3 linked regions of the Homo sapiens genome follow. Each later gene encodes a partner of the first gene's protein in a complex. Each region holds a gene or a part of one and is shown on either strand. Other genes may lie near its edges.

Region 1 (3,649 bases):
GTGTTTCTAGTGTAATATACAATTTTCTCTCTTTAAAAAAAATTTCTAGATTTGATCCATATGGAAAGAATAAGTTCTCCACTTGTAGAATTTGTAAAAGTTCTGTGCACCAACCAGGTTCTCATTACTGCCAGGGCTGTGCCTACAAAAAAGGTAAGTTTCTTTTAATACCGTTTTCTATTCATAAAACCGACTTCATTTGCTGCTAATTTGGTTAACAGAAAAGATGTAGCCTGTCATAAATTCTGTTAGCCAAACACTCTCTTTATCCTAAGGCAAAATAGAACCTAAAACCTGTTTATAATTAAAATTATATATATATATATATTTTTTTTTTCTTTTCTTTTCTTTCCTGATGCTGTTAAATTATGTTTTAAGCTTCAGGATTGACTTAAACCAAACAGTTGGTATTATGATTTGATTGATCACATATCTTCTTTTGTTTCAGGCATCTGTGCGATGTGTGGAAAAAAGGTTTTGGATACCAAAAACTACAAGCAAACATCTGTCTAGATGTATTGATGGAATTTCTGGCTTTCTAAATGATTTTACTTTCTGCCTTGAATTTTCAAGGCATAGATGTCAACTTACAGAATAACATGTTTTAAGATAATTAAGTTTAAACCAGAGAATTTGATTGTTACTCATTTTGCTCTCATGTTCTAAACAGCAACAGTGTAACTAGTCTTTTGTTGTAAATGGTTATTTTCCTTATAAGAATTTTAAGAACTAAGTGGCAAATTCCATGAAAATATTTCTCAGTTCTGTATGCACTTTTATTTAACATTATTCATATAATTCTCCCCCCACCACTTTATTTATAGATACTGCAAAAGTGAGAAGGAGATAATAGATACTTTGCTCTGAATTTGGCATCCAGAGTTAACATTTCTCCCCTCACTCCCTTGCTGGTGTCATAGTTATTAGAATCAGCAGCCTCTTAACTAATTGCGGTTTCATAGGATATATAAATGTTTCAAGCCATTATTGCTGAATGGTTCTTTAGTTATTAACCTAGACCCAAATCAAAGACCAGTTGGATTTATGATATTTTTTATTTGTTCTTGCAGCCAAAGTGCCAGTTTCTTTAATATGTGACCAAGAACACAAGGAGCATCCATATGGCCAAATAAATACACTGAATTTTAGAAAAACATATTACTTTGAATTCAAATTGTCATGAAAACCAGAACAGTGTTTGTCCATGTTGCATGTAATGAAAATAAATCCCTGCTCTGAGAAAAGCTCTTTGAAGCAAAAACCAAACTTTTTTTTTTTTTTTTTTACCTCCTGTCTTGCCCCCTAAAAGAAATAAATAGAGCAAACATCTTGACTCTCCCTTTTTAAAATTTGTTTGTTTTTTTTTTTTTTTTTTGGATACAAGAGCTCACTCTGTTGCCCAGGGTGGAGTGCAGAGGTATCATCAGGCTCTCTGCAGCCTCCATCTGCTGGGCTCAAGCAATTCTTCCCCCTCAGCCTCCTAAGTAGCTGGGGACTACAGGCGTGTGCCACTGTGCTCAGCTAGTTTTTATTTTTAGTAGAGATGAGGACTCACTATGTTGCCCAAGCTGTTCTCGAACTTCTGATCTCAAGCAATCCTCTGGCCTCAGCCTTCCGAAGTGCTGGGATACAGGTGTGAGCCACAGAACTTGGCCTCTCTCTTTTTTTTTTTTTTTTTTTTTTTTTTTTAACACTACAGGTTTCAAATGAATACTTTTCTTATGTTGCCTTCAGAGGTTCAGGACTTCTGCTTTTAAAACCTGCAGCCTACCGTGGGAAACCAAAAAAGCATTCCCTATTTCCAACTGCAGTATGTATAAATACATATCACTACAAAATGTATAGAAAGTGTGATGAGATACATGAATGGCATTTTTATTGGTCATAACATTTTGATGAAAAGCATTTAAAGTTTTAACTTTATAAGGCTTTTCAAAATGTGTTTTTCTGAGATACATTGTTATTTATTCATATCCAGAAAAATTACAAGGATAATACAGAATATAATAAATAATTTATCTGAGAGCAGGAAGTATCCTCTCATGCTTAATCAGTTTGGGGTTTTTAATTATAACACAGGAAACTCATAACAGGACCTGGTCAGAGAGCATCCCAGATCCATTAAAGATTGGATTCATTGACTTGGAGAAAAGTACATTTCTCAGGGATCAGCTAGAATCTGGACTTGCCTAACTCACATTTCATTTTTTTTGTTGTTGTTGTTGTTTTTATAATTTCAACTTTTATTTTAGATGTAGGGGTACATGTGCAGGTGAGTTATATGGGTATATTTTGTGATGCTGAGGTTTGGGGTACAAATGATCCTGTCACCCAGGTAGTGAGCATAGAGTCCAACAGGTGGTTTTTCACCCCTTCCCTCCCCTCTTCCCTCCAGTAGTCCCCTATGTCTGTTCTCATTTTTATGTCCATGTGTACCCATTGCTTAGTTCCCACTGATAAGTGAGAACATGCGGTCTTTGGTTTTCTGTTCCTGTGTATATTCACTATAATGACCTCCAGCTGCATCCATGTTGCTGCAAAAGACATGATTTTCATTCTTTTTTATGGCTGCATAGTATTCTGTGGTGTATATGTACCAATTTTCTTTATCCAGTCCACTATTAATGAGCATCTAGGTTGATTCTGTGTCTTTGCTGTTGTGAATAGTGCTGTGATGAATATGTGAGTGTATGTGTCTTTTTGGTAGAACAATTTATTTTCATTTGGATTTATATCCAGTCATGGGATTGCTGGTTCAAATGGTAGTTCTGTTTTAACTTCTTTGAGAAATCTCCAAACTGCTTTCACAGTGGCTGAACTAATTTGCATTTCCATCAGTGTAGGCGCATTCTACACTGCACTGGCTTCTACAGTGTTGAAGCATTCCGTTTTTCCCACAGCCTCACCAGCATCTGTTATTTTTTTGACTTTTTGATAATAGCCATTCTGACTGGTGTGAGATTGTAACTCATTGTGGTTTTGATTTGCATTTATCTGATTAGTAATGTTGAGCATTTTTTCATGTTTGTTAACCGCTTGTATGTTGTCTTTTGAGAAGTGTCTGTTCAAGTCTTTTGGCATTTTTTTAATGGGTTTTTGTTTGTGTGTGTGTATTTTTGTTTTTGTTTTTGTTTTGAGATGGAGTTTCACTGTTGTCACCCAGGCTAGAGTGCAATGGCACCATCTCAGCTCACTGCAACCTCCACCTCCCGGGTTCAAGCGATTCTCCTGCCCCAGCCTCCTGAGTTGCTGGGATTACAGGTGCCTGCCACCAAGCGTGGCTAATTTTGGTACTTTTAGTAGAGACAGGGTTTCACCATGTTGGCCAGCCTGGTCTCGAATTCCTGACCTCAGGTGATCCACCCATCTCAGCCTCCCAAAGTGCTGGGATTACAGGAGTGAGCCACCACACCTGGCCACGAGTTACTTGGTTTTCGTTTTCTGAATTGTTTTAGTTCCTTATAGATTTTGGACATTAGACCTTTTTCAGATGCACAGTTTGTGAATATTCTCTCCCATTCTGTAGGTTGTCTGTTTACTGTATTGATAGTTCCTTTTGCGGTGCAGAAGCTCTTTAGTTTGATTAGGTTCCACTTGTCAATTTTTGTTTTTGTTGCAATTGCTTTTGAGGACTTAGCCGTAAGTTCTT
Region 2 (3,649 bases), on another chromosome or scaffold:
GGGGCTTTTTCTTCTTCTTTCGGTTCCTACGCTTCCGGTTTTTCTGTCAAGAGGAGGAAAACCAGCTGGGTCAGGGAATCCAAGCACTGTGCCAGCACCCCAACCCCTAAACTCCTCCCCCATTCTCCCCCACAGTTCAACAGTCAGGCTTTTCCCAAGGAGGCCATCTCATGAAGTAGCTGCGAAGGGGCCTTGGAGTCAGACTCCAAAGTTCTGCCACTCACAAGCTGTATGCCTTTGGGTAAATTACTGTGCGTCTCAGAACCTCTGCTTTTTCAGCTGTAAAATGTAGGCACGTATAGTACTTGGAACTCAAAGCAATTAAATGAAAAATATCTATAAGATGCTGAGGGCGGAAATTGGCACAAAATAGAAGCTATTACTTACTGAACACTTACAAATTGTGTTATTTCCGTACCCAAGTCCCATCTCCTGGCTTTCCTTCCACACTCAGCTCCAATCCCTACCTCCTTTTTAGATACGGACACTGTGTCCTCCTCAGTCTCTGACGCTGACTGGCCCAGGGACGAGCGAGCATCTGTTTCCATTTCCTCTTCCTCTGTAAGGAAGAAGGTGGTGATGAGTCTTCACGGTGCCACTGCCCTGCACTCGTTCACAGTAACCTGCCTTTACCAAGAGCCAGGGAAAGGGACAGAGGGATGAGGACTCAGCTCAGCCTCTCCAGGTTCTGTGGCTACAGCATCAGAACGCCTGGCACTCACCCTGCTGAGAATTCATCTCTTCCTGGCGGCTCTCCTTCAGCTGCAGGATCTTCTCCAAAGCCTGGGGGATCTTGGGGCCCACAGAGGGGTCATCCATCTGCCAGAGACACCCAGTCAGAGAAGGCAAATCACAGTGCCCTTTTTCTTTTTTTTTTCTTTCTTTCTTTTTTTTTTTTTTGAGACGGAGTTTTGCTCTTGTTGCCCAGGCTGGAGTGCAATGGCGCGATCTCGGCCCACCACAACCTCCGCCTCCCAGGTTCAAGCAATTCTCCTGCCTCAGCCTCCCGAGTAGCTGGGATTACAGGCATGCACCACCACACCTGGCCAATTTTGTATTTTTAGTAGAGATGGGGTTTCTCCATGTTGAGGCTGGTCTAGAACTCCTGACCTCAGGTGATCCGCCCGCCTCGGCCTCCCAAAGTGCTGGGATTACAGGTGTGAGCCACCGCACCCAGCCCACAGTGCCCTTTTTCCACCAACTTCCACCTCTTGGACTAGAAAGGCTGCTGCCCAGGTGATGTAAGCAGCAGAGAGTGGGCAACACCAACTGGGCTCAGTGGGGTTTAGTGTTCCTCAGAGGGACCCCAAGACTCTGCCTCAGTAATGTCTCCCCAGTCCCTCTGCCATACCCTTAGTTTAAATAAGAAGGGCTCCCCACTACCCCCAGGAATTTAAGTCCCCCCATCTTCTCACAGAACCTTTCTCTAAAAATCCAAAAATAGTCCCATCCTAAACTACCACTCTCTTATCCCTAGGAATAAATCATCAGTCTCACCTCTCTGTTCTCATCTCCAGGGGGCGGTGGGGGACCACGAGGCCGGGGAACAGGGGCTCCCATGGGCAAAACTGTAGGAGTGGGGCCCACTGGGCCCACTGGAGCAGCTACTAAGAGACGGGAAAAAGAAATCCAATGTCAGAAGAGGCAAAACACTCACGTAAAAAATTACCTCTCTTGCTGAAAGGGTGATGGTAAACCTGCAGGGGAGGAGGGCACGTGGCGTGGCTTTTGGAATGCTGGTAATGTTTTGGATCATGGTCCAGGTGCTGGTTGTACAGGTGTGTTCAGTGTGTAAAAAACCATTAAACTATATATTTACTATATATGCCCTTTTTAAATGTGATAGATACCTTAAAAGTCTTTTTAAAAATGTCTAAATCACCTTCCTTGCCCTTCCCCTCGGTTCCAGGGTCTCACCTCGAGGACCCAGAGGAGTGCGCACACCAATCTGGCCCATGTCTTGTGGGGGCCGAGGGACTGGGGTGCCCATCTTGGCAATCTCCTGCTGTCGTTCCTGCTCCAGTAACACAGCTGCCTACGGGAGGGAAGTGGGAGTAGATACTGCCTGAAAACGCATTTGGCAGGCAGCCCCTGGCAAATGCATTCTTTCAGCCGGGTAATGGGCCCAAGGAGAACAATCACGAACCACTTGGGTGCTGACATCCCCTCCACCCCCACACTTCCAGGCTACTAATCCAAACGGAGGAGCCCTCTCATCACAACGGAAAATCCCTAGAAATAACACCAAGGAAAACCCCAGGAAACTTCTGGTTCCTAGCAGAGAATTTCATATTGAGCCAAACAGTGCCTTCTACTTTTCAGAGAGTTTTCTTCCCCAAAAGATTAAATTATACAGAAGAAACTTTTGAGCTCTTTTCTTATATCCACCCCTCAAGATCCAGCACAATCTGGGCAAAGACAGTACTTTACCCACAGGTCCAGACTTGTGGCTTTTTTTTTTTTTTTTTTTTTTGAGACAGAGTCTGGCTCTGTTGCCTAGGCTGGAGTACAGTGGCATGATCTCAGCTCACTGCAACCTCGGCCTCCCCAGCTCAAGCCATCCTCCCACCTCAGCCTCCCAAGTAGCTGGGACTACAGGCATGCGCCGCCACACCTGGCTAATTTTTGTATTTCTGAGAGACAGGGTTTCATTATGTTGGCCAGGCTGGTCTCGAACTCCTGAGCTCAAGCGATCCACCCACCTCAGCCTCCCAAAGTGCTAGGATTACAGGTGTGAGCCACGGCACCCAGCTCATACTTGTTGCTTTTTAACACTTACTTTTTAATACTCCTGAGTAACCCACTGGGTAATGACTGATGCAATGCACCTCTGGGGCCAAACATCTTATATAACATTCCCAGACTTACAGTCCTATTCTGTCTAAATCCAATACAAATAACTCAATTACCCAGAGTCCTATCTAGAATGATGTCATGTAAGGCGAGCAGAGGTCAGCAGGCTCTTTTTATAATAGGTCAGAAGGTAAATATTTTAGGCTTTATGGGTTGCTGTACAGACTCTGGTACATATTTTTGGTTTGGGTTTTCTTATAACCCTTAAAAAATTTTAAAGTTATTTTTAGCTCATAGGCCATACACATGCAGGCCACAGGTCATAGTTTGTCAATTCCTGAACTTCAAGAAAAATTGAAAGCTTTGGAAGATACTAGAACTTAGTTGAGAACAAAGTAGCCTCCAGGGAAAACTTGAATGGTGCACTCTAAGCACTATAAATGACAGCCAACTGACTGGACCACGAGGTCAAAGGTTAGGGGGAGGGGTATTACCCGCTTCTGCTGCTCCAAGAGCTCATGTTCCTTCAGCGAATGATCTCCCTGCTTAAAAAAGAAAACAAGTTCATACCAGCACCAATACCCAACACGCCAATCTGCCACAACTCTTGCTTCTTGAGATCCTCTTCCAGTCAAGGGCCCATGTTCCAATCTTTAGTCCCGACCTTCCCAGAAGCCTTAGTTCTAGGACCCAGCTTTCTCTAAGGCTCCACTGCCCCTTCAGGGACCTAATGAGTCCAAGGCCAGGGCTGCCACCTGCCCTACCTGCTTGGCACGCTCCTCCTGCTGCATCAGCAATGCCGCCTGCTGCTGAGCCAACTTCAGCCGCTCCTCCTCTGACAGTGCCACTGGCTCAC
Region 3 (3,649 bases), about 50 Mb from region 1:
ATTTGCAGGGTCATTTCCTCAGTTTGTGTATTAAAGAAAAGCTGCCCCAGCCAAGCGTGGTGGCTCACGCCTGTAATCCCAGCACTTTGGGAGGCCGAGGCGGGCAGATCTCCGGAGATCAGGAGTTCGAGACCAGCCTGGCCAACATGGTGAAACCCTGTCTCTACTAAAAATACAGAAATTAGCTGGGCGTGGTGGTGTGCGCCTGTAATCCCAGCTACTTGGAAGGCTGAGGCAGGAGAATCGCTTGAACCCGGGAGGCGGAGGTTGCAGTGAGCCAAGTTCGCACCACTGCACTCCAGCCTGGGCAACAAGAGCGAGACTTCATCTCAAAAGAAAAAAAAAAAAGAAAAAGCTGCCCCATCGCATCGCATAGAGGCTGCTATGGGATTAGAACGTAGCTTGAGATCTGCAGGTCAACAGGTCTGTTTGGCATCTCAGGTTTTCCTCACATAAGTGAAAGATGCCTGGTATGGCCTAGTGTTGTTCTGCCTCCCTCCTCTGCCCGCCAGGTATACATGGACTGGTACGAGAAGTTCCAGGACAGGCTCAACAAGAAGGTGGTACTCCTGACAGGCGAGACCAGCACAGACCTGAAGCTGCTGGGCAAAGGGAACATTATCATCAGCACCCCTGAGAAGTGGGACATACTTTCCCGGCGATGGAAGCAGCGCAAGAACGTGCAGAACATCAACCTCTTCGTGGTGGATGAGGTCCACCTTATCGGGGGCGAGAATGGGGTATGGCGTGACCTTGCAGCACAGATGAGGGACTGGGACTGACCAAGTGGCCTTGGCATTGGACCTAATGTTTGGGTCTGAGGACGGAGGCTCGGGGCTTCTCCCCAGAGGATTCTACCTGCTGCCCTATTCCAAAGGGACAATGTTAACTTTTTTGGTAGTACTTTAGGAAAACAGTATTGTTTAGTGGAGGTTGGCTGCCGTGGAGGAGGTAGAACCAAACACATGAGAGCTCCTAGTTAGAAGGAAGAATGAGGTCATTTTGAGGCTGTTGGGCTGTTCACAAAGGGGACCTCCAGGCAGAGGATGGGAGCCTTGGCCTGCAGTGACCCTCCCTCCCTCCCTCTTTCCAGCCTGTCTTAGAAGTGATCTGCTCCCGAATGCGCTACATCTCCTCCCAGATTGAGCGGCCCATTCGCATTGTGGCACTCAGCTCTTCGCTCTCCAATGCCAAGGATGTGGCCCACTGGCTGGGCTGCAGTGCCACCTCCACCTTCAACTTCCATCCCAATGTGCGTCCCGTCCCCTTGGAGCTGCACATCCAGGTAGGACCCACTCTCCTCATCCGTCTGTGGGGTGTCACATAGATCCTGAGTGACCCAGGTCTGATAACCTTGGTGTCTTTTCTTCTCCCCGGTCGCCAGGGCTTCAACATCAGCCATACACAAACCCGCCTGCTCTCCATGGCCAAGCCTGTGTACCATGCTATCACCAAGCACTCGCCCAAGAAGCCTGTCATTGTCTTTGTGCCGTCTCGCAAGCAGACCCGCCTCACTGCCATTGACATCCTCACCACCTGTGCAGCAGACATCCAACGGCAGAGGTAGGTGGGGCCTGGCGTCTGGGGGTTGGGGTTAGGTTAAGTGAGGCTGGCCTACTCCAAGGGTGTCCTCTTTATGAGGGTGGGGTTAGCCCATGTTGCTTGGGGCCAGGTTCTGCACAGCTGGCAAAGTGTCTGCCAGGAATTGAACTACTCTGAGCTGAGCCAGTGCCTGTACCGCACAGGTTCTTGCACTGCACCGAGAAGGATCTGATTCCGTACCTGGAGAAGCTAAGTGACAGCACGCTCAAGGAAACGCTGCTAAATGGGGTGGGCTACCTGCATGAGGGGCTCAGCCCCATGGAGCGACGCCTGGTGGAGCAGCTCTTCAGCTCAGGTAAGTCAGGCCACGGAAGGGGAGCATAGCAAGGGTATCACCAAGTGGTGGTGTTAAACTTGAGGGGTGCGGGTGGCAGTGTTTTCTCTACAGCATACCAGAGATTTTCAAAATACTGTTTAGGACTCTTGGCTGTTAACTCATTTGATCCTCCCAAGAACCTCGTGAGGCAGGTGAGACAAACACTATCCCTACTTGCCAGGTGAGAAAACAGGCAGACACATCAGGTTGTGCTATTTCAGAACCTGGTTTTCTAGAGTCCAGGACCTTTGGCCACCAGACCGCTGATTCTCCGTGGATACCAGACTCCCCAAGTGTATTAGTCCGTTCTTGTATTGCTATAAAGAAATACCTGATACTGGGTCATTTATAAAGAAAGGAGGTTTAATTGACTCAGTTCTGCAGGCTGTACATGAAACATGGTGTTATCTGCTTCTGGGAAGGCCTCAGGGAAGGCAAAGGGGAAGCAGGCATCTTATATGGCAGGAGTCAGGACCGAGAGAGTGAGTGGGGAGGTGCTACACACTTTTGAACAACCAGATCTCGTGAGAACTCATTCACTAGACAGTACCAAGGGTGGGTGGTGCTAAACCATTCATGAGAACTCTGCCTCCATTAGCCAGTCATCTCCCACCAGGCCCTTCCTCCAACACTGGAGACTACAGGTCGACGAGATTTGGTGGAGACACAGATCCAAACCGTCTCACCAAGATAGTTAGACTTTAGAGATTAGCACAGAGGAGAGCTCTGATTCTCCCTTGAGCTCACTCTTGCTGGCCACTGTCTCTTGTTGCCCTGTGGCATTTTGTGCAAAGATTTACGTTTTAATACTGTTTATTGGAGCCTCATTGGAGATTCTTCTGCCAGAATCACTTCCTGTCACTCTTTGGCCCTTGAATCTGCCTGTTTGGGGCATGCTTAGAGTGATCTCTGTTTTGCTGGCATGGCTGAGCCAGCCCGTGGCTGCATGAGTGTTAGCACTTTCTGGTCAGAGGAGCAGTCCATCAGCTGTAGTTTTGCCTTGGTGTTCCTGGGCTTTGGGTTCTGTTCTATGATGACTTGTTTTCTCCTGGATAGTCCCAGAGCAAGGCACCAGCAGCGTGGAGCTACCTCATAGCAATGTGTTAGCTCTCATTCATGTTAGACCTTGTTCCTAGCCAGCCTTGCTGTGAGTTCTGAAACATAGCACAGGGTAAGCCACGGCCTGCCCATGAGGCAGTGAGCCTACTTCACCCGGAGACCCCTGCCCTCAGCCTTCCTCTCCCCTCTACTGCTCAGGGGCTATCCAGGTGGTGGTGGCTTCTCGGAGTCTCTGCTGGGGCATGAACGTGGCTGCCCACCTGGTAATCATCATGGATACCCAGTACTACAATGGCAAGATCCACGCGTGAGTACAACTGGTGCTCTGTGTTAGCACAGACCTCCTTCCTAAAATGAATGTGAATCTGCAGATACACAGAAAGTAAGCTAGGATGAAGAAAAGGTGTTAGGGAAGTTAACAGCTGAGATGCCACCAGAGCCAAGTGTTTGAGAGTTTTGTGTCTCAATACCTAGGCTCACATTTGCTTTTTAGTCATTGTGCTTCCTTATTCAGCAGCTGGGAGAGGTAGGAAATTAGAGCCAGGAGGAATGTTTGACGTTACGTCATTAATCTCAGACATCTTGTAGATTAGGAAAAGTGACTTGGTCGAGGTCATACACCTATATAGTGACAAGTAAGAAGCTAGAGGAGTGCCGAGCGCAGTGGCTCAT

The links.
Region 2: CRIPT (region 1) and SF3B2 share a complex: the UniProt entries of both Homo sapiens proteins name them as parts of the minor spliceosome.
Region 3: CRIPT (region 1) and SNRNP200 share a complex: the UniProt entries of both Homo sapiens proteins name them as parts of the minor spliceosome.

The regions. Positions count from the first base shown.
Region 1 is NC_000002.12:46,623,715-46,627,363, forward strand, and holds part of CRIPT (cysteine-rich PDZ-binding protein), read left to right. Parts: intron 1-49; coding exon 50-153; intron 154-448; coding exon 449-513; 3' UTR 514-3,649. UniProt on the Homo sapiens protein: As a component of the minor spliceosome, involved in the splicing of U12-type introns in pre-mRNAs. Involved in the cytoskeletal anchoring of DLG4 in excitatory synapses.
Region 2 is NC_000011.10:66,055,224-66,058,872, reverse strand, and holds part of SF3B2 (splicing factor 3B subunit 2), read right to left. Parts: coding exon 3,558-3,649; intron 3,339-3,557; coding exon 3,288-3,338; intron 2,036-3,287; coding exon 1,918-2,035; intron 1,608-1,917; coding exon 1,498-1,607; intron 820-1,497; coding exon 723-819; intron 560-722; coding exon 468-559; intron 44-467; coding exon 1-43. UniProt on the Homo sapiens protein: Component of the 17S U2 SnRNP complex of the spliceosome, a large ribonucleoprotein complex that removes introns from transcribed pre-mRNAs.
Region 3 is NC_000002.12:96,281,449-96,285,097, reverse strand, and holds part of SNRNP200 (U5 small nuclear ribonucleoprotein 200 kDa helicase), read left to right. Parts: intron 1-512; coding exon 513-740; intron 741-1,093; coding exon 1,094-1,285; intron 1,286-1,384; coding exon 1,385-1,563; intron 1,564-1,745; coding exon 1,746-1,897; intron 1,898-3,175; coding exon 3,176-3,284; intron 3,285-3,649. UniProt on the Homo sapiens protein: Catalyzes the ATP-dependent unwinding of U4/U6 RNA duplices, an essential step in the assembly of a catalytically active spliceosome. Plays a role in pre-mRNA splicing as a core component of precatalytic, catalytic and postcatalytic spliceosomal complexes.